3 separate regions of the Homo sapiens genome follow, and all the other regions are linked to region 1. The links come from fine-mapping of genetic effects on gene expression. A gene starts in region 1. Each other region holds a variant in brackets. All regions are shown on one strand. Distances are from middle to middle. Region 1 holds the start of TMEM60 (transmembrane protein 60). Region 2 overlaps PHTF2 (putative homeodomain transcription factor 2). Region 3 overlaps RSBN1L (round spermatid basic protein 1 like).

Region 1 (10,451 bases):
CCGGGCACGGTGACAGGCACCTGTAATCCCAGCTACTCGCAAGGCTGAGGCAGGAGAATTGCTTAAACCCAGGAGAAGGAGGTTGCAATGAGCCAAGATCGCACCACTGCACTCCCGCCTGGGCAACAAGAGCAAAACTCCGTATCAAACAAACAAACAAACAAAAAACCCCTCATTAAGACAGAGACTACAAGAGTAAAATAGATTTAGGAACAAGAAGATAGGTTTATTTTTCAACAAATGATATATTCATACATTCAGCACCCAAAAGACACACAATAGACAATGGGATATATGGAATGAACACACAAGAAATCTGTGTAGATAAATCAGCTTGCTCTATCCCCCAGGATTACTTGCCATTAAAGCATTCCCATAACTATACAATTAATAGCTTTTCCTTGTCAAAGAATTTTAGAAATAAGTAAGAAAGTAGTCAAGAGATTTGAGAAAACAAGTTCCTCTCCCTATACACTTAATTCACAGCACTGAAATCCTACTTCATTTATTTTTTTCATTGTCATTTCCAATAGCAAAACCTTATTTATGCATTCCATCTGGTTTAATGAGTTTGATGTACTTTCTTCAGAAAAAAGTTGATAATGTGAAGCTCTCTTCCTATATTTTCCCTTCTTTTGTGTGGGTAAAATGATTATTCAACTCTGCCGGTTGAATCCTATTGCCTCCCTTTAAGGTTTTATTTGCTTGTTTGCCATTTTCTGGCTTCTCTTATTCTATCTGGAAATTGTTATTTTAAAACCTACACACACACACACACACACACACACACACACACACACGCCTGTTCAACTCAGTCAAATAACTGCAACAACCACTTTTTGAGCTAGTCTTAGAAATCAAGAATATGTCAAGTGCTTTACATACATTATCTCATTTAATTCTTAAAATCTCGCAAAGTAGGTAACTCCATTTAAAGAATAAATAAAACTGAACCTCAAAAATATTACATAATGAGTCCAATGTCACACAACCAGTGATGGCAGTATCAGGACTTGAACCTAGGTCTACAGAGCACCAAAACTTGTGCCACCTAATTTTCATAAATTTTCTGGTATCTGTAACAAATCCTATACAAAAGGTCTTACAAAAGTACTTTCATTCATGCAACAAATATGAATGCCTACATGTCTTTAAAATTTCTGTAGATATACTTTTAACAGCCCCTTTCTTGTACTGTTTTTGCAACTGGAAAGCTGCATACTATGCACTTTTCCCTTTACTTCCTCTCATTAAATGTCAAATTTAATCATGTTATGATTATTATCAGGTAGTGGTTCAGCCACAGCTATTTCCTGCCCCAGTTCCTGTTCAGTACCCAGAATAAAATCCAGCATATTTTCATTCCTAGTGCTCTAAAACTACCTGTTCCAGGAAGCAATCAGTTGTTCTCATCTGAAAACTCACTTCTATATTTTGTGTCACATTAGCAATTTTCATGAGAATAACAAAGTGGACTAAAAATGCAGTTTTCCTAAATGTCACTTAATATTTTCCACTTAGTCATATGATTCTGGTCATCAAGTGATGTTTCAGATTTGTAAATTTAACGTATTTATGGTTTGGTATTAATCTGAGAAGAAGATAGAAGCACGAGACTTTCTCAGATTTTCAAGGGCAGTCCCAATTTAAAACACACTGGCCAGGAGTGGTGGCTTATATCTGTAATCCCAGGACTTTGGTAGGCCAAGATGGGAAAATCACTTGAGGTCTCTAGCCTGGCCAACATAGCAAGACCCTGTATGTACAAAAAAATAAAAATTAAAACATTAGCTGGACACAGTGGTGCATGCCTGCAGGTCTAGCTACTCAGGAGGCTAAGGCAACAGGATTGCCTGAGCCTGGGAGTTCAAGGTTACAGTAATTACACTACTGTACTCCAACCTGGAAGACAGAATGAGACCCTGTCTCAAAATAAAAAAACTCTGTCCCACTATCATGTATCAAGTAGGGATTAAGAAAAGACAGTCAAAATATATGCAAAGGGGAGTTCACAATAATGACTCCATGTGGCTACAGGCTAGGTAAAGGGGTTAAGGGATGGCAACCATCATTTTGGAATTCTTCTTTGAGTCTTAATTTGAACTGGGAAAGTAAGTATTGGAAGGTGAATATTAAATAAACATGTAATAATGGACAAACTGCTGAGGTTTTCCTATAATTTTAGTATCTAAGTATGCAATTTCCAATTATCAAAATTGGGTAGTACTCACTTTGCCCAACCACATTTACATACCATTATCATTTAAAGCTGGCCTTCACACATACATTTTATACAAAGCTACAATTACTTACCATTCCCTAAACAATCCATATTTCTGTTCTGAGACTCTGCCTCTTCCTGTTCTGCATGGAATGCCCTCTTTCTCCACCTACAAACACCACCTTCAGACCTTTAAGGCTTCAGTGGTAGCTCCCCTGAAACCCAACTAGTTCTCTCTTAAAATTATTTATTGTTTCTTTTGTATTCACTGCTTTCTATGTGCCCGTACTTTATATATTTTATTTAAGGCTTAATGTCTTCTTTGAAGTATTGCCCTTTCCATTAAACAGATAAGGAAACTGATGCTAAAAGAGGTTTGGTGTTATGTTCAAAGTCACAAAGCCTGATAGGAATTCAAATCCAGACTGTCTATACTTTAACTGAATTCTTGTCTCAAGAATTATTGGGACCACAAGCATTTTGGATTTTGGATTTTGTAATATTTGCATATACATAAAGAGATATCTTAGAGATGGGACTCAAGTCTAAACACAAAATTCATTTATGTTTCATTTACACCTTATACAAATAGCCCAAAGGTAATTTTATATAACATTTTAAAATAATTCTGTGCATGAAGCTAAGTTTTGACTGTTTTTTTGTTTTGTTTTGTTTTTGTTTTTGAGACGGTGTCTTGCTCTGTCACCCAGGCCAAGTGCAGTGGTGCGATCTCGGCTCACTGCAACCTCCACCTCCTGGGTTCAAGCGATTCTCCTGTATCAGCCTCCCGAGTAGCTGGGACTACAGGTGCATACCACCACGCCCGGCTAATTTTTTTTGTATTTTTAGTAGAGACGGGGTTTCATATTGGTCAGGCTGGTCTTGAACTCCTGACCTCAGGTGATCCACCCGCCTTGGCCTCCCAAAGTGCTGGGATTACGGGCGTGAGCCACCGCACCCAGCTTGACTGTAACCTGTCACATGAAGTCAAGTGTCTTGTGGCATCATCTTGGCACTCAAAAGGTTCCAGATTTTAGAGCATTTCAGATTTTCAGTTTACAGATGCTCAATCTGTATATATTGTATTATCGTCATTTGTTCAAATATCTATTTCTCCCATCAAATGAATGCTCCTCAAACACAGAGAAGGTGACTCCATCCCTTTATCTTCAGCAAAATCCAACAGTGCCTATTATACAATGATCTCAAAGTGTTACTGTGTACAATAGTGGATTCAATTTACGGTTTTGCAGTGTTATTTTCCACTGAGTAGTCTCCTACTATAAAGTCTCCAAGAAGCCAATTTTATTGTGGTAATAAAGTATAATGGCTTGGAATGTAGGCTTTGGAATCAGACTGCTTAGGTGTGAATCTCACCTCTACTGACTCATTTGTGAAGAAATCTTGAACAAATTAGTTAAACTAAGTCTTGGTTTGCTCATCTATAAAATGACAGTAATCAGTACCCATCTCACAGGACTAAAATGATTAAATAATATACAAGTAGTCCAACTATTTTCGAGTTTCATTTTATCCACATGACACCCTAAATTCTCTTCAGTTTAGTGAAGGTTTTTTTCATTACATATTCCTTGCAATTTTGCATTAAATGGACCAGCCAAAAAAAGTTCATGGTTTAAAAATTGGGTGGGCCACCTTCTTCATTTTTAGGGCCAACTGTCCAGTGCCAGTTTGGGCTCAAAAAAAGTTTACTCTTGGAGGCTTGACTATCTATGCAAGAGTGCCCCCATTGTATACTATACTTGTTTACTCACCACATTTTCATGCTCCACCAGAAAGTGGTCAAAATTGGAACACGAAAACTCTCCACCTCACTAACACCTAACTTAAAACTATCAGATGCATTCAGACAGCCAGTCTGTGTGGGAGGCAGGCTATTTCTGGGGCAAAAATATTTCCTGGAACCACTGTTTCTGGCCCCAGACATGGCTCATTCTCCGCAGACCTCCAGATTCCTCTCCTCTACGTTATGGAGGTGGAGCCACTACAACTGATAACGCATATCCATTTCCTTCTCTTAAAATTTGCAGTCCATACACCATATCCAAGTTAGGATTTCAAATTGTTATACTGTTTTGTGACTCTTTAGGCTAAAGTGTGCAGTTTCCAGACTTTCAGAATTCCCCTTCCAATATTAAAAATATGGTGAAAAAAGCCCAGTTTGAAAGAAAATAAACTTTACAAAAATACCTGAAAACAAGATCAAATACTAAGTCTCTTGCCAAAGTCTTGGAGAAAAAAAAAATGAAAGAAACGTTTAAAAATGGCAAAAGCTAACCAAAAACCTTAAGATTAAAGTATCACACCTGAAAAGTAGTCTCAAAGCAAGGAGGATATACTATTAACAAAGAAAGCAACCGAAAACTACAAAATATTTAATATTCACCATGAATTTCAAAATTACTTGGCATGTAAAGTACACACTGAGATTAATAAATTGTTCCAGATTCTGCACTGCCCAGGTTAGTATAAGGCAGTTCCTTGTTTTCGCCACGCTAAAAATAAGAAGGGTGACAGATTAGTGACAGAATGATCCCTGAAGTTACACAAGGAGGTGCTGAGTTAGAAAGCCATGACTCGAAGGACAATACCAGAATGCTGGCTGTCAACACTGGGCAGATAAAAATAAGAAAAGCTGAAGCATGCTGATGGAGCACGGTATTGTTTCCAGACGGGAACTATCCCTTAAGGCCCATGCCTTAAGCACCCACTCCGCCGTGTTGGGATCAGAAAACTCGACTGCCGCCTGCTCAGAGGGGGCAGGGCAGCGACCCTCCTTCCACCTCCTCCAGCGCGCGAGCCGCCGCCCCCTCCCGAGCCCGCTCCTCCGGCCGCTAGCTGACATCTCCCCGCCAGCCGGGCTAGCCACCCGAGACCCCTGAACGCCCTTCCAGGACCCGACGACCCCTCAGCACAGCGCCAAGGGAAGGAAGCAAAGGACAGGGGCCTGGAAGCGGGGCCCGAGGGGCGGGTGGCGCGCTGGGCTTCGGCCCGTCACCATCAAGACTTGAGGACCGCGCGAGCTCGGGAGGAAGGCGGCTGAGCCTCCGCCACCGGCCGACTGATGAGAAGGGGTCGCGGCTGACCCCGGCCCTCAGGTACGGGAGACTGCCGGGAAAGTCGCCGGCGACGGAGGGCGACGCGTTGGCCCCGGAGCCCCCACCTCCATCCCGACGACCGCTCTCCTCCCTCGTCCCGATCCATCCTCGAAATTCTGTCAGAACTCGACGACCTCCACACTGCCCACCCGAGCGCGGAGGTGATGCCGCTCTTACCGTAGGAGCGAGCGCCGCGCCGCTAGGAGGCGGCTGAGGTGCGCGCGGGAGACTCCGAAGCTAGCGCCGCCGCCAACAGAGCCCAAGGAGCCACAACGAGGCTGCCCGCGGGCGCGCTGCCTCCAGAGGGTTGCCCCACCCCCTCTCCCGCAGGATTTTGCGCCGGAGCCTGCAGTCACTGCGCGCGGGCAGGGAGGATGGGAGGAGGGGCGGGGCGTCCCGAGAGGGCGGAGCTGAGCGCCGGCTGCTCTGATTAACATCTGTGGGCCCAATGGGAGCACGGAAACTCCAGGCTGATCTTGGACTGACTTCCCTACTAACCCGTGACAGTAGAGAGGCGGGACCAATGGGTCTTTTTATTGCCGCCTTTCTGTCGAACCCGAAAGTAAGGAAAGGTCGGTTGGTTTGCACTGGCGGACAAATGGTCCAATTACCGCGGAAAAGGGACCTCTGAATCCAGATTGGCGTCCTCTCTACCTATAGGGTAGGCTCAGGGGCGGTGAGAACCAGCCCCGGATGTGGGCGCGGCACTGAGGTAGAACTGAGAGATCCTCTACCGCAGTCGTTTGAGGAGGCGGAACTGAAGTTTTTTCTTAATTATCATGTGACGGGTTCTGGATTTAATGGGGGGAAAAGGGCGGAAAAGGACAAGGATCCAAACTGGCGAATTTGCTGATCTTCGCGTCCCTCTCCGCTTTCCGGCCGGCAGCGCTGCCAGGTGAGTCTGGGGCTCTGCCCTAGCCCGCACCGTACGCCGGCGCTGGTCTCCTGATGCTTCCGTGGGCTGTGCGGCCGACCCTCAACCCATCACACAGCCAGCCCCAAACGCGCACACGCCTGCTTGGCTCCAGGGCTTCTGTGCGCATCCAGCAGGAACCGTGTTAAACTCCAGCATGTGCTGGGCTTACAGCCCATGAAAGGGGAGCGTCCCGGTGGGGCGCCGCGAGCCGACTGTCGGTGTTTGCAGAAGGGCAAGTATAGTTTAGGAGCGTCCTGAAGTTCCAGGGGCAAATAGGCCCCCAGATGAGCTAAGTTGTAAGCAGAACGCTGTTCCTTTGGCCAAGGCTGTTGCTGCACGGGCTTTTCAAAAGCGACTCATTATGAAGAAGAATAAATATGTGGGCTCATGAAGCAAAATTATCTTTGGGATGAGGCAGGTTCACTTGGTAGACTACTGGCAGTGGCGAGAGAAGGGAAATGGGGGCTGATACCCAGCCGTGGGCTATGTGGGTGGGGCTCTATATATGTCCATACAGGGGTAACTCCGAAGGTTTTAAAAATGAGTAAGGAATCATTAACAAATATTTAACTGTCTTCCTAGTGCCAGAAATAACCACCTTAAATGGGAAACATTTTAGTTGAGCACATTTTTGGAGTACGCACCTCCCCCTTTCTTGTGGAGAGAATAGTAGGAAACATAACGACTGCTCAAATTGATGAAGACGTAAATGTAAAACTGGGATCGTATGTCATCGTTGTAGCTCAGCATACAGGCGTACAATCCTTCAATCGTCATTTAAGTATCAGCAGTGCTTCCCCATTGAGGGTATTTCCGTGCAAGAACATAACAGAATTTTGTTGCATCCCACATTATAAATCTTGTAGGCACAATAAGATTGTTACTTGCATCCTTTCACCTCCAGCCCTAAAGCACCTGTGGTAAGTACAGCCAAATGTAAGAAAAAAATGAAGCTTGTCTTATCCGATAGCAGATGGAACAGTTAGGTTTAAGCAAGTGTATAATCATAAACCGTTTTTCAGAGGTTCACAAAAACGGCCTGATAGATTGGAGGTGGGGATTGTGCAATTTACGGGATGAAATCCATCCATGGTTATTAATCAACACACACCCCTCCAACCCTGCTTCCAAATTCAGTCCCACATCCCACTCTATGGCAGCCTCTGGCCGGGAAAGGAAACCAACACAGAAAAATGCCTCCTTAGAAGCAAAATTACTGCAGTATGAAGCCTTTGCCAATTAAGTAAACAAGTTTAAGTGCCACTAGATGGGTATAAGGGAAAAGAGGTGAGTTAGGAGACTAATACTTAACTGTTGAAATAGAACAGATGTGTCCTCTTGCACTGTGATAGCCACCCACTATTTAAAGTAGTAGAGATGTTGCACAGTACATCAAAGTTAGTTCTAAAATATAATTGAGCACGCTAATCTAGGGTATTTGGCTCAATTAGCCAGTTCCTTCACCTTTTCCCTGTTATCTTCCTGCATCTTTCCTCCTACCACGCATGCTTTTGTTCCTATCCCTAGCACCTTCTGATCTTTTTCTCTTTCCATCAAGTATCCTCTCTCATCTTCAGTGTCATTCCCCATTGGCTTATTTCTGTTTATAGTCATAAATTCTTCCTTTCCTGAAAATTTCTTCTTTCAGTTTCATATACCCTATCTTTCATTTTTCTCTTCTCCAAATGCCTCAAAGGAATAAAATGTTCTCAATTGTTTCCATTTCTTGGTCTTCTGTTAACTCCTTACCCAGCTGCATGCAGTCTGGCTTCTGATTTCCCATTCTACTTATCCTTTTTCCAAGTGGCCATAAAGGTTGGTATAAAAAACTTAAGTAGAGGAACATATCATAAACCTATATGTGAAGATTAAATATAATAAATGCTATCCCAAGCTAAGTTTTATGCATTCATAATCAAAATTCTAGGTTTTCAAGAATCAGCAAATTTAGCATTGAAAAACTGTAAGGGCAAAATAGAAAATATTCTAGAAAAGAGGCCGGCGTGGTGGCTCAAACCTGTAATCCCAACACTTTGGGAGGCTGAGGTGGGTGGATCACTTGAGGTCAGGAGTTCGAGATCAGCCTGGCCAACATGGTGAAACCCCATCTCTACTAAAAATACAAAAACTAGCTGGGCGTGGTGGCGCACACTTGTAATCCCAGCTACTTGGGAAACTTAAGTGGGAGGATCACTTGAACCCGAGAGGCAGAGGCTGCAGTGACCTGAGATCGTGCCACTGCACTCCAACCTGAGTGACAAGAGTGAGACTCCGTCTCAAAAAAAAAAAAAATTCTAGAAAAGAGAACAACGAGTAGATACTAGGCCTTCCAGATATTAATACATTCCTAGAGCAACACTAAGTCATATAGTATTAGTGCAAAAGAGAAACATATAGATCAATGAGGCAGAATAGTGATATAAGAAATAGCCCCCAAAATTTAGCATCTAATAATCACAAAACATCAAAAGTTTATTAGGTGGTCCTGATTATTGAATGGATAACAAGTAGCTTAAAAAAATACATATATACACCACCAATCAGTGAGACTATTGTTAAAAGGAAAAAAACTATTATACCAAGAAAGATATTTGTAAGAATTTTTATGAGAAAATAAGTGAGAATTTAAGAATATGTTTCAAATTATATGAAAATCCAGTGTTATCAGTGCCTTTTATATTATATAGCCCAACAACCTCTTTACAATCTTTTTTTTTTAGACAGTGGTCTCACTCCCATCGCCCAGGTTGGAGTGCAGTGTGCAACGGCTCACTGCAGCCTCAACTTCCCGGGTTCAGGTGATTCTCCCACTTCAGCCTCGCGAGTAGCAGGGAATACAGGCACGTGCTACTGCACCTAAATTTTTTGTATTTTTAGTAGAGACGGGGTTTCGCCATGTTGCCCAGACTAGTCTTGAACTCCTGGGCTCAAGAGATGCACCTGCCTTAGAGTCCCAAAGTGTTGGGACTGTGGGTGTGAGCCACTGCACCCAGCCACTAAAATATTAATTCTACTTTATATTCTTGTGATTTTTATTAACCATTCCCTCCTTTTATTGATGGATTGACTGATTGAGACAGCATCTCACTCTTTTGCCCAGGCTGGAGTGTAGTGGCATGATCTCACGGGGCACTCACTGCGGCCTCGACCTCCTGGACTCAAGCAATCCTCCCACTTTAGCCTCTCAGTAGCTGCGACTACAAGGTGCATACCACCACGCCTTGCCAATTTTTTTATTTTTTGTAGAGGCAGGGTTTCACTCTTGCCCTGGCTGGTCTGGAGCTCTTGGGCTCAAATGATATGCCTGCCTTCTCCTCCCCAAATACTGGGATTACTGGCATGAGCCACGCACCCTTCCCATTCCCTTCTTTTAAAACTCTCTCTCTTCTCAGCTTGATACCCACCTTTCACTTTTTCACTACTTTGAATGCTTTTTTCTTTGTACCCCTTGAAATTGAATTAAAAATTAGATTTGCAAATGTATAGGAAGATTAAGAACATCTTTGAGGTGCAGGAATAAAGTTGTAAGTGCCTGGACTCGAGTGATAGCACTGAAAAGGAATCACCTGACATTTTGAATAGAGCTTATACAGTAGATATAATAAAAATTGTATTTTGTCATGGGCTGTAAGGAATGGTGGATATAATGTCAATGATCACTAAGTTTTAGAGGATTTGAAAGGAAGAATAGTAGAATGTTTTCAAAATTAGGAAGTCAGTTGGGAAAGAACCAGTTTTGTTCATTAGGAATGGAAGTGATACTTTTTTTCTGGTATCAAAACAATCTTGACTTTTTCTCCTTCTCTTAGGGTATATTTCCTTTTTTCCGATCCTGCAACAGCCTCTTTAAACTGTTTAAATGAGAATGTCCTTGGCTCAGAGAGTACTACTCACCTGGCTTTTCACACTACTCTTCTTGATCATGTTGGTGTTGAAACTGGATGAGAAAGCACCTTGGAACTGGTTCCTCATATTCATTCCAGTCTGGATATTTGATACTATCCTTCTTGTCCTGCTGATTGTGAAAATGGCTGGGCGGTGTAAGTCTGGCTTTGACCCTCGACATGGATCACACAATATTAAAAAAAAAGCCTGGTACCTCATTGCAATGTTACTTAAATTAGCCTTCTGCCTCGCACTCTGTGCTAAACTGGAACAGTTTACTACCATGAATCTATCCTATGTCTTCATTCCT
Region 2 (10,451 bases), 67 kb before region 1:
TTACAGTGATTGGCCTGGACTATCAAGATGAAATCAGTCTACTACTCCACAACGGAGGTAAGGAAGAGTATTCATGGAATACACAAGATCCATTAAGGCGTCTCTTAATATCACCATGCCGTGTGATTAAGGTCAATGGGAAACTACAACAGCCCAATTCAGGCAGGACTACAAATGACCCCGAGACCATTCAGGAATGAAGGTTTGGGTCACTCCACCAGAGAAAACACCATGACTTGCTGAGGTGCTTGCTGAAGGCCAAGGGAATACAGAATGGGTAGTAGAAGAAGGTAGTCATCAATACCAGCTACGACCACACGATCAGCTGCAGAAACAAGGACTGTAACTGTCATGAGTGTTTCCTCCTTCTTTTGTTAAAAATGTTTGTGCATGTATACACTTATACTAAGAAAATATCTTCATTTTTATTTCCTTTCTCCTTTATCATGTGATATAAAGATTTATTGACTTCACATCAGCATTTAAGTATTGTTAACTTTATGTAATAGTATTTGGAATGGGGATTGGTGCATTTCTGGTTGTACAAAGGATAGCTGTGTTATGTTAGGCTTATTATTGTCTTTATTTGAAGATTATATATGATCTCAGGAGATGTGTATGGGTTCAGGTTGACAAGGGGTGGACTTGTGATGCTTAATACTGAGTGCAAACTTGACTGGACTGAAGGATACAAAGTTTTGATCCTGGGTGTGTCTGTGAGGGTGTTGCCAAAGGAGATAAACATTTGAGTCAGTGGGCTGGGAAAAGCAGACCCACCCTTAATCTAGGTGGGCACAAGCTAATCAGCTGCCAGTGTGGCTAGCATACAAGCAGGCAGAAAAATGTGAAAAGAGAGACTGGCCTGGCCTAGCCTCCCAGCCTATATCTTTCTCCTGTGCTGGATGCTTCCTGCCCTTGAACAGCGGATTCCAAGTTCTTCAGTTTTGGAACTCGGATTGGCTCTCCTTGCTCCTCAGCCTGCAGATGGCCTATTGTGAGACCTTGTGATAGTGTGAGTTAATACTTAATAAACTCATATATATAATTTTTTTCCATTAGTTCTGTCCCTCTAGAGAACCCTAATACAACATACCAAAAAAAAAAAAAACAAAATGGATTAAAGATTTAAAAGTAATACCTAACACTATAAAACTACTAGAAGAAAACATTGGAGAAACACTTCAGGACACTGATCTAGGCAAAGAATTTTGGGGTAGGACCCCAAAAGCACAGGCAACAAAAGCAAAAATAGACAAATGGAATTACATGAAACTAAAAAGCTTCTGCACAGCAAAGAAAACAACAGAGTGAAGAGACAACCTGCAGAATGGGAGAAAATATTTACAAACTATCCAACAAAGGATTAATAACCAGAATATATAAGGAACTCAAACAACTCAACAGCAAAAAAACAAATAATCCAATTCAAATATATGGGTAAAAGATCGCCATAGATATTTCTCAAAAGAAGACAAACCAAGTGGCCAACAGGTATGTTAAAAAATCAAAACAAAAACAGCAACAACAAAAAAACTCAACATCACTAATCATCGGGGAAATACAAATCAAAACCACAATGAGATATCATCTCACTCTAGTTAAAATGGCTACTATTGAAAAGACAAAAAATAACATATGCTGGTGAGATCTAGAGAAAGAGGAATGCTAATACACTGTTGGTAAGAATGTAAATTAGTACAGCCACCATGGTAAACAGTATGAAGGTTCCTTAAAAAACTAAAAATTGAACTACCATATGATCTAGCAATATAAAAGAAGGAAGTCCTGCCATTTGCAGCAACGTGGATGGAACTGAAGGTCATTATGTTAAATGAAATAAGCCAGTCATAGAAAGACAAATATTGCTATGTTCTCATATATGGGAGCTATAAAAGTTGATCTCATGGAGGTAGAGAGTAATACAGGAGACTGGGAAGTGAGGAGGATAAAGAAAGTTTGGTTAATGGGTGCAAAACACACATAGAAAGAATTAAGTTCTAGTGTTTGATAGCACAGGAGGGTAACAATAATTTATTATATATTTCAATATAGCTGGAAGAGTAGTTTTAAAATGTTCCCAACACAAAGAAATGATAAATGTTTGAGGTAATGGATATCCTAATTACCCTGATCTAATCATTACCCATTGTATGTATCAAAATATTACATGTATCCCATAAGATGTATAATTAATTACGTATCAATTAAAAATTTAAAAACTGAAAAAATGAAACAGATGTAAAGACCTTCAATAACTTGCTCAAAGTCAAAAGAGAACCAATGACAGAACCAGACTGAAAGACAGGATGTTCTATTCCAAAGATCTTTTTTGTTTTTTTGCTTTTTCCTGCTTGATTTTTAAGTCACTAAGATTAATAAAGTACGAATAGGATCTATATTTATGTGTGGTACAAATTCAAGTTGTTCAAGCCAAAATGAAAGGGAATATTTATTTTAAAATTTCTCAGATACTGTGCTAGAACTTTCTCAAAAATCATTTAAAAGTCAACATTATCATTCCCCTTTTAAACGTGAGGAAACTGAGTCTCAGAGATGTTAGCCCAAGGCCAGATAGTTTTTAAAACACAGAAGTTGGATTCCATCTGCAAGCATAAAAGCCCATAGGCTTTCCATTATCTAATGCTACCTTCCTAGGATAAATCTGATTTGTCTTTTCTCAAAATAATAGCAATTTGTGGAAATTGCTATTCTTAGTAGCAGAAACCGTTTCAAATTACTTGTTTAGATGAGAATTAAGTAAATGTGCTACCCATTTCAGGTATATCCATTCTTTGACTTACTGAAATTTGTTTTTAATTAATCAGAATATGAAGAATAGCTTTCACTTTTTCTTTGTATTCATGATTGTAATAAAAAGTTCAATTTTGGCTGGGCGAGTTGGCACATGCCTGTAGTCCCAGCACTCTGGAAGGCTGAGGTAGGAGGATTGCTTGAAGCCGGGAGTTCAAGACCAGCCTGGGCAACAAAGCAAGACTCTGTTCTGCAAAAAAAAAAAAAAAAAAAAAAAAAAAATTTTTTTTTAATTAGCCACTTGCGAGGTGGTGCATGCCTGTAGCTCCAGCTACTTGGGAGGCTAAGGCAGGAAGACTGCTTGAGCTCAGGAGTTGGAGGCTGCATTGAGCTATGATAGTGCAGGATACTACTCTAGCCTGGCAACAAAGTGAGACCCTGTCTCAAAAAAAAAAACAAAAGATCCAATTTTATTACTTCTTTCACATATAAAAGGCTAAATGCCATCCAAGGAGACTGGGAAGTTTCCACCAAGGTACTTTATATAGAATGGGGGGAAAAAAGGAAATGTTTCTTAACATTAATGGGTATATTTATGATATCCTCTCATCTGTATTAACTACTTTATAAAAGGTACTGGGCATGATTTGCCCCCTAGAATACAACTTGCTTTAAAGTTCTGCCAACTTTGTAAATTCCTTAAACAGGGATTCATCAATCTACTAAAACAAAAGATCGTATGTAAAGGAGAACTGCACAGATGTTTTACAGCATCAAGCTGTAGATTAAGTATTTACTTTATTACACTGTCTATCACCCAATCTAAGATGATGTCAGGAGAAAAAAATGAAAGCTCTCACATACTCTTGTCAACTGCTATCTACTATTAGATAATTTTTTCCTATGATACACCAGAACTCCTTAGCTGCGCCCTTTCCCCCACCTTGGATAGAAAGTCCAACCACAGTTACTGAAGTATACTAATGTCTCTGCTTTTTACTCCTCAAATGCCAGTTGAGGCAGTTAATGTTCACAATATTACAATAACAGCAATAATAAGTAGTCAGCATTTATCAAGTGCTGATACCCCTTCCACGTATTAACTTATTTAATTCTCACAGCACTATTAAGTAGGTATTACAGCTATCTCTATGTTTACAGTATAAAGACTTAGGCTGTACAAGGTTAAATAGTAGCAATAAACAGGAATTCAAACACAGACAACCTGGCTCCATAGCTGTGCTCTTACCCACCAGTAATTTCATTAATATCCATCCACAAAAACGACCCTACGTTCACTTGCCTTGGTTCTGATCACTAAGAGATGTCTGGGAAGGGTTACATTTAATCCCTAATCATTGTCATATACTTCTCCCTGTATTACCTTCTGTGGGCTATCTTGCCAGCAGGCAAGCTGTCAGGGCTTATTTAAAAAGCAAATAAAAATACACAAAACTCTTCAAGAAGTCCAACTTAGCCTTAACAACATGTAAAATAATTAGTATTATTAATCAAAGGGTAATTATAAGGACTAAATGTACTAATATGTATGGAGCAAACAACAGGAACAGACATGCAAAAGCTCAATAATTAACCATTATGTCATCTGGCTATTACCTAATGCTTCCTTTTCCTTCATATTGCAGCATGTGACAAGGAAAGAATGTATATGCCTATTTGCATTCTTTTACTACTCATCATAGCATATACTCTGGTTTATCATTCTAAAACATAACCCTGACTAAATCATGTGTACAAAATATAAATCAAGGCTACAGCACCATCCTTGTTTACATATTTCTAATAGTTTACTATAACAAGAAAAGCTATGTCATATTTTAAGGCAATTTAAATGCCAAAAATATTAACATAACTTGGTTACTTATTTTAAAAATACCTAACATATTATTGCTATTCATTCATTTGAAATCAAATAAGAGACCATTAAAGAGAACAATCTTATGCTGTACAGACCAGTATTAACTTTTTTTTTTTACTGACGAGACAATTGAGGCTTTAAGAGACGTCAGGTTTTACAGATGGTAAAACCCAGCTTCTGACTTCCAATTCCATGCCCTTTCCACTGCACCACACTCTTTTACGTAACTTGTTAACCACAGGCCAGTATTTTCCTAAGTATGTTCAACAGATACTCAGGGGAAAAAATTAAGTCAAATAAATTGAGAAATGATATTTTCTCTGTCTGCCTCTTAGACAGTCAACTGCACATTATTTGCACTGGAAAATCCTGAAATCATATAACTTGTTTGCCTGTGTCTCACTCAATATTTCCCAAACTGATTTGACTACAAAATCCTTTTATTCTCCTAATACTTATTAACATCATGTAGAGCACACTTCAGGAAATGTTACTACAGAATAAACTATTACGTTTAATAATTTTTTTTTTTTTTTTTTTT[G/TG]GAGAGGTAGTCTCGCTCTGTCATCCAGGCAGGAGTGTGGTGGTGTGATCTTGACTCACTGCAACCTCTGCCTCCCAAGTTCAAGTGATTCTCCTGCCTCGGCCTCCCAAATAGCTGGGACTACAGGTGTGCACCACCATGCCTGACTAATTTTTGTATTTTTAGTAGAGACATGGTTTCACCATATTGGCCAGGCTGGTCTTGAACTCCTGACCTCAAGAGATCTGCCCGCCTTCGCCTCCCAAAGTACTGGGATTACAGGCATGAGCCACCGAGCCCAGCCTAATACTTAATGTAATAATCAGTATAAAGAGCCTATTTCACAGATTTGACAACTCAAATCAAGTCCCTTGAAATAAGTGCCTGGCTTGATACATGGCACATCAAAGGTACTTAATTTAAGAATAAAAAACTATATAAATTAGAAGTTTAATATAAATACTGTCTCCTGACAGCACTGTTATCAAAGCAGTAAACATTTACCAAGTACCAAGTATACAGTAAGACCCTGAAATAATGGCGATATAAAGATAATGATTCTTACTCTCATGGATTAGCAGGGGAGATTAATTATCAAGTCAGGCTGTAATAAGCAGTAGAATAAACAAAATACCACTGTAATACAGAAGTAGAATAATAATTGATATTATAAAAGAGATTGGCTGGGTGACATGGCTCACATCTATAATGCCAGCACTTTAGGAGGCTGCGCTGGGTGGAACATGAGGTCAGGAGTTTGAGACCAAGCCTGACTAACATGGTGAAACCCCGTCTCTACTAAAAATACAAAAATTAGCCAGGCATGGTGACGCATGCCTGTAGTCCCAGCTACTCAGGGGGCTGAGGCAGGAGAATCGCTTGAACCCGGGAAGCAGAGGTTGCAGTGAGCTGAGATCGTGCCACTGCACTCCAGCCTGGGCAACAGAGCGAGACTCTGTCTAAAAAAAAAAAGAAAAAAGAGGAGATTCCCAGGTAATTATTGTTAAATGGAGCAGAATGAATTTAGCTTATATGGAACATCTCAGAATGTTTATATCTAGGATGGTAAAAGAGGATCAAGATCTCTCTGTAGCTTTCCCTGTCTCCATGCAGAAACAATTGCTCCCATTTCAAATTTTTTTCCTCAGTGAATACTATCATACTACTAGGGTCATGTCAAAAAGATTCAGAAGCCAACCTAAATAAGCTCCTATTATTAAGACAGAACAATCTGTCTGACAATGGGAAAGACATTATTATGGACAATAACTCCAACAGGTGGAAACATATGAAATATCTTTAAAGCCATAAGTTCATAATGATAATTAAACAAACAAGCAACACAGTGGTGACCTTTGGAGGATGCTAGGTAACTACAATATTACTCTGTAAACTGTAAAGAGAAAGAATCAAGAAAAAAAAAAAGCGCTATACCACTGCCACAAAAAGAACACACACAACTTTCCCATAGGAGCACTAGCAGGAGGAGATACCTAATCCAGTTTTCAGGGGATTATGAAAGATATCCGTGAGGGGAAGATGCCAGCTTTGAGTTTTAAGGAGCAACTTCAGTTAAAAAAAAAAAAAATTAAAAGCATAAGTGGGCAGTCTAAACACTAAGGTGAAAAATAGCATGGGAAGACTTCAAACAGTTTTATTTGGAGGGATGGTGTTAGAAGGTAAGAAAAGTTGAAGGCTGAAAGGGGTAGGCAATGAGGCTACAAAGCTAACTGGAATTAGACCAGAAAAATCGTTATAGGCCTTGCAAAGAGTTTATACCACATATGAAAGAAAGGCTTTGACGAGTGTTAAAAAGATAAGTGACAAGGTCAAATTTTTGTTTAAGATAAATCACTCTGGTGGATGTGAGAAAAAATATTTAACTGGCACAAGAATGAAAGAGTAATGAAGGTAGGGAGATCACAACAGATTTGAGAAATATTTAGAAGACAAAAGCAGTAACAGAATGGTGACTAGAGGAAAAAATTTACAGGGAACTTTATGTGAGTTCCTGTAACACTTTCAAGGTAATTCTACTGTAGCATTTACCATAAAGCATAATAGTTACTTGTTTACATCTTGGCTCCCCCATGATGCAGAGTTTCCTAAAGATAAGAACTCCGTGGGGCTGGGTAAGGTGGTTCACACCTGTAATCCCAACACTCTAGGAGGCAGAGGCTGGAGGATAACTTGAGCTCAGGAGTTTGAGCCCAGCCTGGGCAACATGGAGAAACTCCATCCCTACAGAAAATTTTTTTAAAACTAAGCGGGGATGGTGGCTCACTCCTGTAGTCCCCAGCTACTTGGAAGGCTGAGGTAGGAGCCCAGGATGTTGAAGCTGCAGTGAGCCATGATCGTGCCACTGCACTCCAGCTTGGGCGACAGAGTAAGAACCTATCTTCCAAAAAAAAAAAAAAACAAAACAAAACAGGGAACTCAGTGCCTGATACATAGTAGGCACATCATAAATGTTATTTAAACATAAATGCGTGTAAATCCTATCAGGACATGATTTTTTGGAAAGAGAAAGTCTTGGTTAAAAAAAAAAAAGTCTTTAATAATCCATGTGTAATAAACTTTAGCTTTAGAACTACACTGAGACCAGGTGAGGTGGACAGGGAAGAAAAAAAAAATCTTTAATCCTAAAAATCAATCTCTATAGGTAAAACTAAATGTACTGAATTTTCCTTATATGAAATCAATGTAAGGAGGTTCTACCTAGTAATTTACTCCTTGGTTTTCTACCAGTAAATAAAAATGAACCATATAATAAAGTGTCACAGTGGACAAAACAGCAGTAATTAGAAATACACCCTGCTGCCTACCATTTTGAGATTGGAAAAATAAGACGTCATTCCTCTGATTCCCCAAAGCTGTAAAAGAAGTACATTTTAATAAGGCTACCTTACTAACTAGCTCTTTATATACCATCCTACTTCATTAGAGATTACACTATCCCCCTTCTCCACAAACTAGGTAAACCAGAACTCTTTGTAATTCGAATCCATCACAGGGGTAGAGAAAAAGACACCAAAAACAGAAAGCAAACTAAAGCAAGACTTCACTTAAAATGGCCAGGCAAATATATGCCAATAAGGATATTGATTCAGGGCAAAAGTTCAAATGGGAAACTTTTAGGTTGTATATCTTCAGCATTTTATTCTCTGTGAATCAATCCTTGGTGCTGAATCTACAGCTTTTATTTGAATAAACTCTATGGTCCATTAGGCAAAGAGCAATTTAGCTTCTAAGTTTACCTGTTAAATGGCATTTATGTCATTCTTTGTAGAACTGTAAACATACAGCAGGTTAACTACAGTGTTTTAGTCACTCCCAGGCCTTTCAAAGTTGGTACATTTGCCTAATTTTAGGCTGCCAACAGTAATCTACTACTTTATTTCACCATCATGTCTGTTGCTATGGTTAAAAATAAACTGACTGCAAGACACTTGGAATATAACCGGCAAATATTATATCATTGATGAACATCTCTGTTTTAAACCTATTCATCAAAAAATGAAAAAGATTCCAGGCTAGTTTTCCAGTAAGTCATAAAATATTTTTCTTTCCAATACCCCACAGGTATAAGAAGCTTTATTCAATAAAGAACTTCAGCTCTATTCAAATAGCATCATTTCTTGGATCTCCTCATACCTGTGTAAACTACTACTTTAATTTTTAGGTGCTGTATCTGGCAACCGCTACAGGCCAATGATTGCTTCCTTTTAACGGAAAAACTATTCCTTTTATCCAAAAAAAGTCATAAGCAAATGACTGCAGTATTTCAAATAAATTATATACTATATAGAAATTCCTAGTCTTGATGTACCAAGGTATTTGCAAAACAAAAACCAAAAACATTCTATTATGAAACACTTAACTTCTAAAGAGAACAAATATAAAATAAATGTTAAAAATGTAGAAATGTATGTATTATAGTGCCTTAACACTGTAAAAAAGACATTTCAAAAACCTTAAAGAATTTTCTACTGATAATGTTTTTATGAACTCAGTACTTTTATACTAAGGAGAACTATAGATGGATCCCCTTGGAGTCTATAAACATTACTGTGTAGAAGCCTAAAAAGGTACTGCTAGGGAAGAGTGAAAGGTATTTTTTTCTATTTTTCCTTCTTTTTTTTTTTTTTGAGATGGAGTTTCGCTCTTGTTGCCCAGGCTGGAGTGCAATGGCACGATCTTGGCTCACTGCAACCTCCGCTTTCCAGGTTCAAGCGATTCTCCTGCCTCAGCCTCCTGAATAGCTGGGATTACAGGCATGCGCTACCACACCCAGCTAATTTTGTATTTTTAGTGGAGACGGGGTTTCTCCATGTTGGTCAGGCTGGCCTTGAACTCTCAACCTCAGGTGATGCACCTGCCATGGCCTCCCAAAGTGCTGGGATTACAGGCATGCACCACCACAGCTGGCTAATTTTTGTATTTTTAGTAGAGACGAGGTTTCACCATGTTGGCCAGGCTCTTCTCAAACTTCCGGCCTCAAGTGATCTGCCCACCTTGGCCTCCCAAAGTGCTGGAATTACAGGCATGAGCCACTGTGCCTGGCCTATTTACCTACAATTCTGCAAACTGATTAAACAACAAATCAAGATAAGGCTAAACTGAGAACTCACAATAAAGGACAGATCTATCACAATGTATTATAACCAAAGTCATAATAGACAATAACCACCACAAATCAGGAAAATATTAGAAAATGGTCATTTCTACTCTATTTGCAGTGTTAAAGGAAAGAGTCAAAAGTAAAAGAAAATTTGATCATTTAAAAAAAAATACCCAGAAAATTCACCACGTAGGATAGTGCATTCCTCAAAATTACCATGTAGAATTAAGTGTAAGATATAACTGAAACTATATCTGCCTTTATAGCTATCTATTCTATCCACTTTTTAATGCATCATTTGTTTTGTTCCTTCCTAAAACACCCCTCTTTACCATGAAAACAAAGTACTTCAAAGGATCCCAGATAAAGAATGACACACCCTAAGGAAAAAATTGTGTTAGAAATTAAAGCAAACAATAAAAATAAATAAATAAAAATAAAAAAAGAAATTAAAGAATAAGGGAGAGAGCAATTAAATGTAAGTACATAATTTTCAAAAATACAAAGGAAAACTGACCACTTCTAATGGTGTTTTTCCATTTTAACTGATATAGAAATGTCCAATTTAAGAGAACAATTAAGGCCAGGTAAGGTGGCTCATGACTGTAATCCTAACAATTTGGGAGGCCGAGGTGGGAGGATAACGTGAGCCCAGGAGTTCGAGACCAGCCTGGGCAGCA
Region 3 (10,451 bases), 76 kb after region 1:
AGGAAAGTAAAAAATAAACAGATTACATAAAAGATCAGGTAACTATGGAAATGAACTCTTCAACAGTAACAGTACACAGATGCTAAAAAGCAATACAGCAATGCCTTCAAAATTGCGAATGAAAATAATTTTTAACATACAATTTTATAATCTGCCAAACTATCAATCAAGTATGCAGGAAGGCATATTCAGACAAGCAAAAATTTTTAAAAAATTACCACACATGCATGCTGTCACAGGAAGTTATTTGAGGGTGTGCTCAAGTAAACTAGGGAGTAGTAAACAAAGGAAGACAATGTGAGATCGGAGGACCCAGCATAAAAGAGCAGATGAGAATGTATTAAAATAAACACTGTGCAGATGGCTCAGCGGATAACTAGTTCAGGCTGAAGTACAAGAATGGAGCTCTTAAAAACAAGACCTCCAGAAACAAAGGGGGACCTGACAAATTTTCTCTTATCACAGAACACAGAGAATAGAGAGAAAATGAAGCAATGGATACATAAGTAAATGAAAAAGAGAGGCAATTTTTAACTACACAAAAATGAAGAAAGCCATATAAAAGGATCTCTCCCTGATCTGCATTAAACAGCATTTGCAGAGTCATTATAAGCACTGACTATTGTTTTAACTAAGGTATGTGGAATTATTAAAAAGGAAAGAAGCTAGGTTATAAAAGTGGTCATTCTGGCCAGGCTCAGCGGCTTACACCTGTAATCCAAACACTCTGGGAGGCTCAGGCACGAGGTGTACTTGATGCCAGGAGGGTAAGACCAGCCTGGGGAAGAAAGTGAGGCCTTGTCTCTACAGGGGAAAAAAAAAAAAAAAATTTGTTTTTTAATTAGCTGAGTAAGGTGGGACAGGCCTGTAGTCCCTGCTACTAACTGAGCCACTGCATTCTAACCTGGGTGACAAGCGAGTCTGTCTTGAAAAAAATACTAAAAATAAAAATAAATAATAAAAGTGACAATTCTTATCTAAACAAGAATGCACTATATGTCTAAAACTAACTAAAAAAAAGTAGTATGAGCATTTTATTCAGAAACTTGGAATTAAAAGCAGATGGGGGGCTGGGCGTGGTGGCTCACGCCTGTAATCCCAGCACTTCAGGAGGCCGAGACAGACAGATCACTGGAGGTCGGGAGTTCGAGACCAGCCTCACCAACATGGAGAAACCCCGTCTGTACTAAAAATATAAAACTAGTTGGGCGTGGTGGCACATGTGTGTAATCCCAGCTACTCAGGAGGCTGAGGCAGGAGAATCGCTTGAACCTAGGAGGCGGAGGATGCAGTGAGCCAAGAGAGTGCCACTGCACTCCAGCCTGGGCAACAAGAGCGAAACTCCATCTCAAAAAAAAAAAAAAAGCAGATGATGGCCAGGCACAGTGGCTCACACCTGTAATCCCAGCACTTTGGGAGGCCAAGGCGGGTGGATCACGAGGTCAAGAGATTGAGACCATCCTGGCCAACATGGTGAAACCCCATCCCTATTACAAATACAAAAATTAGGCCGGGCACAGTGACTCACACCTGTAATGCCAGCATTTTGGGAGGCCAAGGCGGGAGAATCACTTGAACCCAGGAATGTGGAGGTTGCAGTGAGCCGAGATCGCACCACTGCACTCCAGCCTGGGCAACAAGAGCGAGACTCTGCCTCAAAAAAAAAAAAAAAAAAAAATTAGCTGGGTGTGGTGGCACGCGCCTGTAGTCCCAGCTACTAGGGAAGCTGAGACAAGAGAATCGCTTGAACCCGAGAGGCAGAAGTTGCGGTGAACCTAGATTGCGCCACTGCACTCCAGCCTGGGTGACACAGCAACGTTCCGTCTCAAAAACAAAAAAAAGTAGATGGGATACTAAACGAGCTGAGGAACACGAAATCAGTAGGGAAAGCTAGGGACACTTCTTACTATAAATTTTTCGATATTTTTAAATTAAATTTTGTTTTTAAAATTTACAGTTATTGTCTTCCTCCCCAAAACCCTAAACTCCAGTCTAATCATGAGGACAACATCAGACAAATCCCAGTTGGGAGACGTTCCACAAAATACCTAACTGGTACACCTCAAACAATCAAGGTCATTAAAAGCGATGGAAGTCTGAGATACTGTCTCAGCCAAAAGGAATCTAACGAGACATGATGATTAAATGTAATACAGTATCCTGGATGGGATCCTTGAACAGAAAAAGGATATAAGACAAAATACTAAGGAAATTCTGAATAAAGTATGGACTTTAGTTAATAATAATGCATCACTACTGTTTCTTAACTATGATAAACGTGCTAGAAAAATGTAAGATGTTAATAATGGTGTATGGGAATTCTGTACTACCTTTGCAACTTTTCTGTAAATCTAAAACTACTCTGAAATGAAATGCTTACTAAAAAACTTATAAAGGCAAAACTTAATTAGAAATACAGACAGATACACATGTATATGTATGTGTATATAAATTTAACAATATATAACAGAAGCGCTACAAGACACACTGTTAACTAAAAAAAAAAGCAGGTTACAGAAAAAGGCATATATATAGTATATTTAGGTTTTTAAAAATAAACTAGATAATCTTAGCCAGGCGCAGTGGCTCTTGCCTGTAATCCCAGCACTTTGGGAGGCAGGCGGATGACCTGAGGTCAGGAGTTCCAGACCAACCTGACCAACATGGAGAAACCCTGTCTCTACTAAAAATACAAAATAAGCCGGGCATGGTGGCGCATGCCTGTAATCCAGCTACCTGGGAGGCTGAGGCAGGAGAACTGCTTGAACCCAGCCTGAGCAACAAGGGCGAAACTCCATCTCAAAAAATAAAATAAAATAAAATAGTAAACGATATAATCTCTTCTGTGAGTGTGTGTTTACATATGTACATATGTAAATGCACAGAACACTTAAAAGGGCTTACCCCTGGCCGGGCGCCATGGCTCATGCCTGTAATCCCAGCACTATGGGAGGCCGAGGCAGGTGGATCACCTGAGGTCAGGAGTTCGAGACCAGCCTCGCAAACATGGTGAAACCCCGTTCATACTAAAAATACAAAATAAGCCGGGCATGGTGGCGCATGCCTGTAATCCAGCTACCTGGGAGGCTGAGGCAGGAGAATCGATTGGACCCAGGAGGCAGAGGTTGCAGTGAGCAGAGATCGCACCACTGCACTCCAGCTTGGGCCACAAGAGCAAAATTCCATCTCAAAAAAAAAAAAAAAAAAAAAGTGGGGGGCTTATCCCTAGGGAAGAAAGAAAAAGAACTTCTGGTTTTTATTTCATTTACTTCCTAAATTATTTGAAACTTCTGCAAGAGAAAGGGATTTGTGGCCGGGCGCAGTGGCTCATGCCTGTAATCCCAGCATTTTGGAAAGCCAAGGCGGGTGGATCACCGGAGGTCAGGAGTTCAAGACCAGCCTGGCCAACATGGTGAAACCCCGTTTGTACTAAAAATACAAAAAATTAGCCAGGCATGGTGGTGTGTGCCTATAATCCCAGCTACTCGGGAGGCTGAGGCAGGAGAACCGACTGGACCCGGGAGGCGGAGGTTGCAGTGAACCGAGATTGCACCACTGCACTCCGGCTTGGGCCACAAAAGCGAAACTCCGTCTCAAAAAAAAAAAACAAAAAAGAAAAAGAAAAAAAATAGGGGGCTTACCCCTAGGGAAGAAAGACAAGGAACTTCTGGTTTTTATTTCATTTACTTCCTAAATTATTTGAAACTTCTACAATAGAAAGGGATTCATGGCCGGGCGCAGTGGCCCATGTCTGTAATCCCAGCACTTTGTGAGGGCAAGGCAGGTGGATCACCTGAAGTCGGGAGTTCGAGACCAGCCTGGCCAACAGGGTGAAACCCCATCTCTACTAAAAATACAAAAATTAGCTGGGCATGGTGATGCACGTCTGTAATCCCAGCTACTCAGGAGGCTGAGGCAGGAGAATCACTTGAACCCAGGAGGCACAGGTTGCAGTGAACCAAGAGCGCACCAGTGTACTCCCACCTGGACAACAGAGTGAGACTCTCAAAAAAAAAAAAAAAGAAAAAAGAAAAAGAAAGGGATTCATATATTATGTATTATTTGTACAATCAAGTTGGTAGCCTAACTCTCCTTCCCGAAAGAATTAATAATTATGTTCAGATACATACTTTTTTAAAGATTTAGAATCACTCAGTATATTAGAAGGAGATACAAGAAAAAAAAATTCAAAGTAAAACACTGAATATATAACATAATATGTACTCACATAAACACATTAAAAAAAGTTTCCAAAGGTCTCCCTCCATTAAAACTGTTCAAGTGCTGTTCTACCTCACTTGATATATATTATCTCGATGTTATGCTATAGTTAATCAAGAGGAGAAAAAAAGGAGAAAATTAGAAATAATTATAAGCTGGTGCAAAGGCTCATTCATGCCTGTAATCCTAGCACTTTGGGAGGCCAAGGTGGGAGGATAGCTTGAGCCCAGAAATTCAAGACCAGCCTGGGCAACACAGAGAGATCCTGTCCCTATTAAAAAAAAAAAAATTTTTTTTTTGAGACAGAGTTTCACTCTTGTGTCCCAGGCTGGAGTGCAGTGGCGTGATCTCAGCTCCCTGCAACCTCCGCCTCCCAGGTTAAAGCAGTTCTCTTGCCTCGGCCACCCGAGTAGCTGGGATTACAGGCATGCTCCACCATGTCCAGCTAATTTTTGTATTTTTAGTAGATACTGGGTTTCACCATGCTGGCCAGGCTGGTCTTGAACTCCTAACCTTGTGATCCTCCCACCTCGGCCTCCCAAAGTGCTAGGATTACAGGTGTGAGCCACCACGCCCAGCCAAAAAAATTCTTTTTAAATTAACTGGGCATGGTGGTACATGCCTGCAGTCCCAGCTACTTGGGTGGGTGAGGTGGGAGGATCGCTTAAACCCAGCAGGTCACGGCTGCAGTGAGCTGTGATCATGCCACTGCACTCCAGTCTGGGCAAAGAGTGAGACCCTATCTCAAAAAATTAAAATTAGAATTAAAAAATAAATTATATATGTATTCTGAATATGCATACACACATACATTATTTATTAGGCTTAACAGTTTTTAAGAAAAAGAAGCTATACTTTTACTCAACCACAGATTTTGATGTATAGGAAATTCTTTATATAGGTTCATTAATTTTTTTAAGAAATTACAGCATCATAAAAATCCACACTGGAAGTTCTTAAGAAATGTTGGCCGGGCGCAGTGGCTCACACCTGTAATCCCAGCACTTTGGGAGGCCAAGGCACGTGGATCACTTGAGGTCAGGAGTTTGAGCCCAGCCTGGCCAACATAGTGAAACCCCATCTCTACTAAAAATACAAAATTAGCCAGGCGAGGTGGCGCATGCCTGTAATCCCAGCTACTCGGAAGGCTGAGACACAAGAACCGATTGAACCAGGAGGCGGAGGTTGTGGTGAGCCGAGATTGCACCACTGTACTCCAGCCTGGGTAACAAAGCGAAACTCTGTCTCAAAAAAAAAAAAAAAAA[G/AG]AAGAGAGAAAGAAATGTTAGAATTTCATACTACAGCTTTCAGTCACAATATATTGTTGCTGCACAAACATCAAACAAGCTTCACACCATCACAGTTTTGCCTGCCCTGAATATGAGCCATGAGCCATAATTCACACCATAATAACGCAGTCCATGAAATCAACTGAACTGAACGACAACAATGACATTCCCCACCTTCCCTCTCTTACATTATTCCTTCCAGGAATAATGTATGGCTAGAAATAGATGAGAGAACAAGCAGCGGCAGAAGAAGAGAAATGTAAAGAATTTGAAGCAGAAGGAAAAGCAGTTACATTACAAAATGATTACAATTACATACACTAAAATAAAAATTGAAGGAGATGAAGGATACAGTAAAAAGAAGAGAAAGGACTTCACAAACAGTAAATGGGAAAGAAGTGATTTATCACAGCCCCTCGCTAACACAGCTAATCAAAGCTAAAAAATCCAGTGGCTTCTCAGCCCTTTTTTCCGTGGACCTCACTGCAACATAACAGTATCAATTCCTTCTCAAAATTTCTCCCTAAGTTTCACTGAAACTGTACTATCCTACCTGACTCCTCCCTCATTCTCATAATCCCACCATCCAAACCTGCACATTTACCTAGGATCTCTCCTAGGCATTCCTCTCTCTTCTCTATATTGCCTCTAAAAATGCACTCACATGATGTAAACTATAACCCTGTGGCAAACTAATCTCCAAATTAATCTCCCAACCCAACCCCTCTGCCAAACTCCACATCTTCATCTCCATAATATTTAACACCAAAATATCATCTTTCTAATATAAAAAAGTTCAAGTTCTCCTTCCAATTCTCTATGTTAATGGCACATCCTCATCCAACATCCAAATACAAAAAATTTTCAGTAACACTAATAATACTTCTTTCTTCAATTTTCCCCTAACACTAAATCACTTGACCAGTTCAGTTTATACTTCGTTAAAATATTTCCATCTTTTTTTCCCTTTCCAGAGTCACCACCTAGTGTATTCTCACTAGCTTTTAAAAGAAAGGGTTTCCGTACCTATAGTTTCTTTCCTTTCCACCAAGTAAGCACAGTGACCAAAAAAGATTCCTTAAATGTATAGTTTACCATGTCACTATCTTCTGCTTAAAACGAATGAATAAACCAACTCAGCTTACCTCTGCCTATCTAAAAACAGAAAACTCCCATAATATGTCATTCAAGAATCTTCAGTTAAGACTCACCTTCTTTTAGCCTTTTCTTCAACTATTCACCCACATATATAACAAGATTCCGGATTACTTGATTCATCATTACTCAAATGTCTTACTCCAATATTTTTACTAATATATCCCTTAGCTAAAATGCGATTGCCCATCCCAATTCCTCCTGCCCAAATCCTACACATCCTGTAAGATTACGGTGAAATTTAGCTTCTTCCACTAAGCACTCCTTGATGCCCATGATCACAAATGATCATATCCTCCTCCTCCCTCTTCTATAATTTGAATTCTGATTTTTTGTATAACTGCTCAATCTGCCCTCCTGGTTTCTAAGCTCCTTTGCAATTATCATATCTTGCTCTTTGCTACCTTCTGTAGAACCTAGAATGGTGCTTTGCATATAAGTGATGCTCAATGTGAATGAAGTTTCCAGGAGGCAAAAGATTTAAGTAAAAAGAAGGAAATTACTATTGATAAGCATTTGAAGGCAATCATAGAAGACAAAAAAGCAATACACAGAAAAAAAAAAAACAAAATTACCAACAATGAGCAGTGTCTTTTACATTGCAGCTATTTATCTCTCCAATTAAATTAAAAATTATCTCAAGGCAAGAAACAGAAAGTTCTCCTCTTTGTATCTCCCTTTCTTCCACCACCACCCAAGCACAAAGCGGGCCATAAATAAGTGTTAAATCCACATAAGAAAAAAAGCAGTAGGCTGGGCACGGTGGCTCACCGCTGTAATCCCAGCACTTTGGCATGCCGAGGCAGGCAGATCACTTGAGGTCATATGACCAAAATGGTGAAACCCCATCTCTACTAAAAATACAAAATGTAGCCGGGCAAGGTCGCCCACGCCTGTAATTCCAGCTACTCAGGAGGCTGAGGGATGAGAACCTGGGAGGCTGATGCTGCAGTGAGCCAGGATCACACCACTGCACTCGAGCCTGGGTGACAGAGTGAGACTCTGTCTCAAAAAAAAAAAAAAAAAAAAGAAAAAGAAAATGAAAAAGAAAGAAACCCCAAATGTATTGTGATATAATAGAAATAATTCAGGCTTTGTAATTATACATATTAAGCTCAAATTCTAGCTCTGCCAATAACTGATCAAGTGACATGAAGCAAGTTACTTAACCGTGTTGTGCCTCAGTAATCTCATCTGTATAGATAATAACACTTGTCTTCTGCAATTTTTTTTTTAACGGAGTTTCGCTCTTGTTGCCCAGGCTGGAGTGCAATGGCACGATCTCAGCTCACCGCAACCTCTGCCTCCCGGGTTCAAGCGATTCTCTGCCTCAGCCTCCCGAGTAGCTGGGATTACGGGCATGCAGCACCACGCCCAGCTAATTTTGTATTTTTAGTAGACCCGGGGTTTCTCCATGTTGGTCAGTCTGGTCTTGAACTCCCAACCTCAGGTGATCCACCCACCTTGGCCTCCCAAAGTGCTAAGATTATAGGCACGAGCCACCACGCCCAGCCTTTTACAATTTTTATAACAAGGCAACATATGCATTATTTCCAACACTATGCACAATACCTAATTTTAAGCACTGGACAAATGTAGCTATTATTATTAAATATAAACAGAATTTTATTACAAAAGCACCCAGTAACAAAGAGTTACAAAAATACTACAATAACAATAGTCACAAGAACACACAAAGAGTAAGAGGAAAATAAAAAAGGACACATACAGCTGGGAACAGTGGCTCACACCTGCAATCCCAGCACTTTGGAGGACAAGGTGGGAGGATGGCTTGAGGCCAGGAGTTCAAGGCCAGCCTGGACAATATGGCGAGACCCTTTCTCTACGGAAAATACAATAATTAGCCAGGCACAGTGGTGCGCACCTATAGTACTGGCTACTCAGAAGGCTCAGTCAGATGGATCACTTGAGCCCAGGAGTCTGAGGCTGCAGTGAGCCATGATCACACCACTGCACTCCAACCTGAGCAACAGAGTGAGACCTTGTCTCTAAAAAAAATTTTTTTAAATACATATATACATAAAAACCATGCCAGGCATAACATGATAAAGTGGCCTGTGAAAAATTTTAGCTCAGGTTTTCCTCACTAAACTATCAGAAAAGATTGGTCTCCAGAGCAGAAATAAAAGCATTTCGTCTGTTCTCAACATATTATAAAACCAAGATATGAAGTACTAAGATATTGTAGGTGGTATCTGGTTACAGAATTAAATCACTTTAAATCACTGAATCGTGTGTCTATAGCTACTATATCAAACGTGATTGTTTCACATATATACAACCTGGGGCATTCTTAGACCTCTAAGTCCACATTATACAATTACATTATTTATTACAATTTAAATTATACTCTGTAATGCAAATGGTAAATCATATACATAGTTCTTAATGATAACAATATGTGTGGGCATATGTAACTATGGGAACCAGACTCTCGTTGTACTTGTTATATACTCTTAGTTACACTTTTTCACACAACCAATTAAAGTTCTACATTTTTTAAAAGTTGTATATTTAGCTAACATCATTAGATACACACCTACAGATGCTTTATCAATCTTAATTCAATTGGAATGTGCTCCAAGTGAAATTTTCCAAAACACACATACATTATGTGCCCTAATGTATGTGCAGTGAGAAATTGGTTCAGACTTCCAAAGCTAAGTCATAAGAAGACTTGCTGTTTCCACCTATGTCGCTGGGTGTCAAGACTCTTGGAGTCCTGAGCTGCCACGTAAGAAATCCAACTTCCTAATTAACAGACCATGTGGAATGGTCCTGAAACAACTTGGAGAAAGAGAAGGGTTCACTCAGTTCAGTATCTAGCCATACATAACACAGCAACAGGCACGTGAGTAAAGTCATCTTGGACCTTCCATACCAGACCAGCCACCAACTCAACACCAATGAGCAACTCCAGTCAACACTGCGTGAAGCAGAGGAAATCACCCAGCCAATCATGCCAGAATTTGTGATTCACAAAATCATCTGATATAATAAAATGGTTATTGTTTCAAACCACAAAATTTTAGGGCAGTTTGTTATGCATTAAGAGATAATTCAGCCTTCACAAAGTCTTATTATAGATAATGAAAAAGTTGTTTTGTTTAAGTATATACAAGACATGCACTGACTCTAGAAAAATGTTAAAGTAGAAAACTGTCTTACAAAATACACTGATGGGCCAGGTGCGGTGGCTCACACCTGTAATCTAGCACTTTGAGAGGCCGGGGCAGGCAGATTGCTTGAACCCAGGAGTTTGAGACCAGCCTGGCAAACATGATAAAACCTCATCTCTATAAAAAATACAAAAAAATTAGCCAGGTGTGGTCGTGCACTTGTAGTCCCAGTTACTCAGGAGACTGAGGTGGGAGGATCAACTGAGCCCAGAAGTTGAAGCCGTGATTGCACCAGTGCCTACCAGCCTAGGCAACAGTGAGACTCAGTCTCAAAAAACATAAAACAAAATACACTGATATATTAAAATCAAGAAGTGAAGGGCTAAAAGAAAAAAGGCTTAATATATAATGTCAGAGCTATAAACACAATCAAACGCCTTGAAATTATTTCCTCCCATAACTTCTGTGACATTGTAGAGCTCGCTTTTCCTATCTAGCTGCCATGAATATTAGTTCATATAATGTTCTCTCTCCCCACAACTCCTTTATCTCTTTGCTGAAATCCTACCATACTGCCCTTTCAAAGTTTCTCTCAAATATCTCCTCTCCTACATCTCTTCTCCCTTTCTTTTCTGAGACACAGTCTCGC

What was found.
Region 2: its variant is fine-mapped to the expression of TMEM60 in whole blood (INTERVAL, PIP above 0.99).
Region 3: its variant is fine-mapped to the expression of TMEM60 in whole blood (INTERVAL, PIP 0.94).

The regions. Positions count from the first base shown.
Region 1 is chr7:77,794,038-77,804,488 of GRCh38, reverse strand. TMEM60 (transmembrane protein 60) reads left to right here and starts at 6,055. Exons shown (of 2, transcript NM_032936.4): 1 at 6,055-6,235; 2 at 10,066-10,451. The coding sequence starts at 10,116. It overlaps PHTF2 (putative homeodomain transcription factor 2), which reads right to left and starts at 5,716. Exons shown (of 19, transcript NM_001395272.1): 1 at 5,518-5,716. RefSeq lists a silencer at 5,636-5,775 and an enhancer at 6,186-6,295.
Region 2 is chr7:77,860,905-77,871,355 of GRCh38, reverse strand. All of the region lies in intron 2 of PHTF2 (putative homeodomain transcription factor 2), which reads right to left. Among named protein-coding and RNA genes, the nearest start is that of PHTF2, 67 kb to the right of the region's middle. The variant G/TG (reference allele first, on the strand shown) is at 5,172.
Region 3 is chr7:77,718,004-77,728,454 of GRCh38, reverse strand. The region is part of intron 1 of RSBN1L (round spermatid basic protein 1 like); the gene reads right to left. Among named protein-coding and RNA genes, the nearest start is that of RSBN1L, 27 kb to the right of the region's middle. The variant G/AG (reference allele first, on the strand shown) is at 5,487.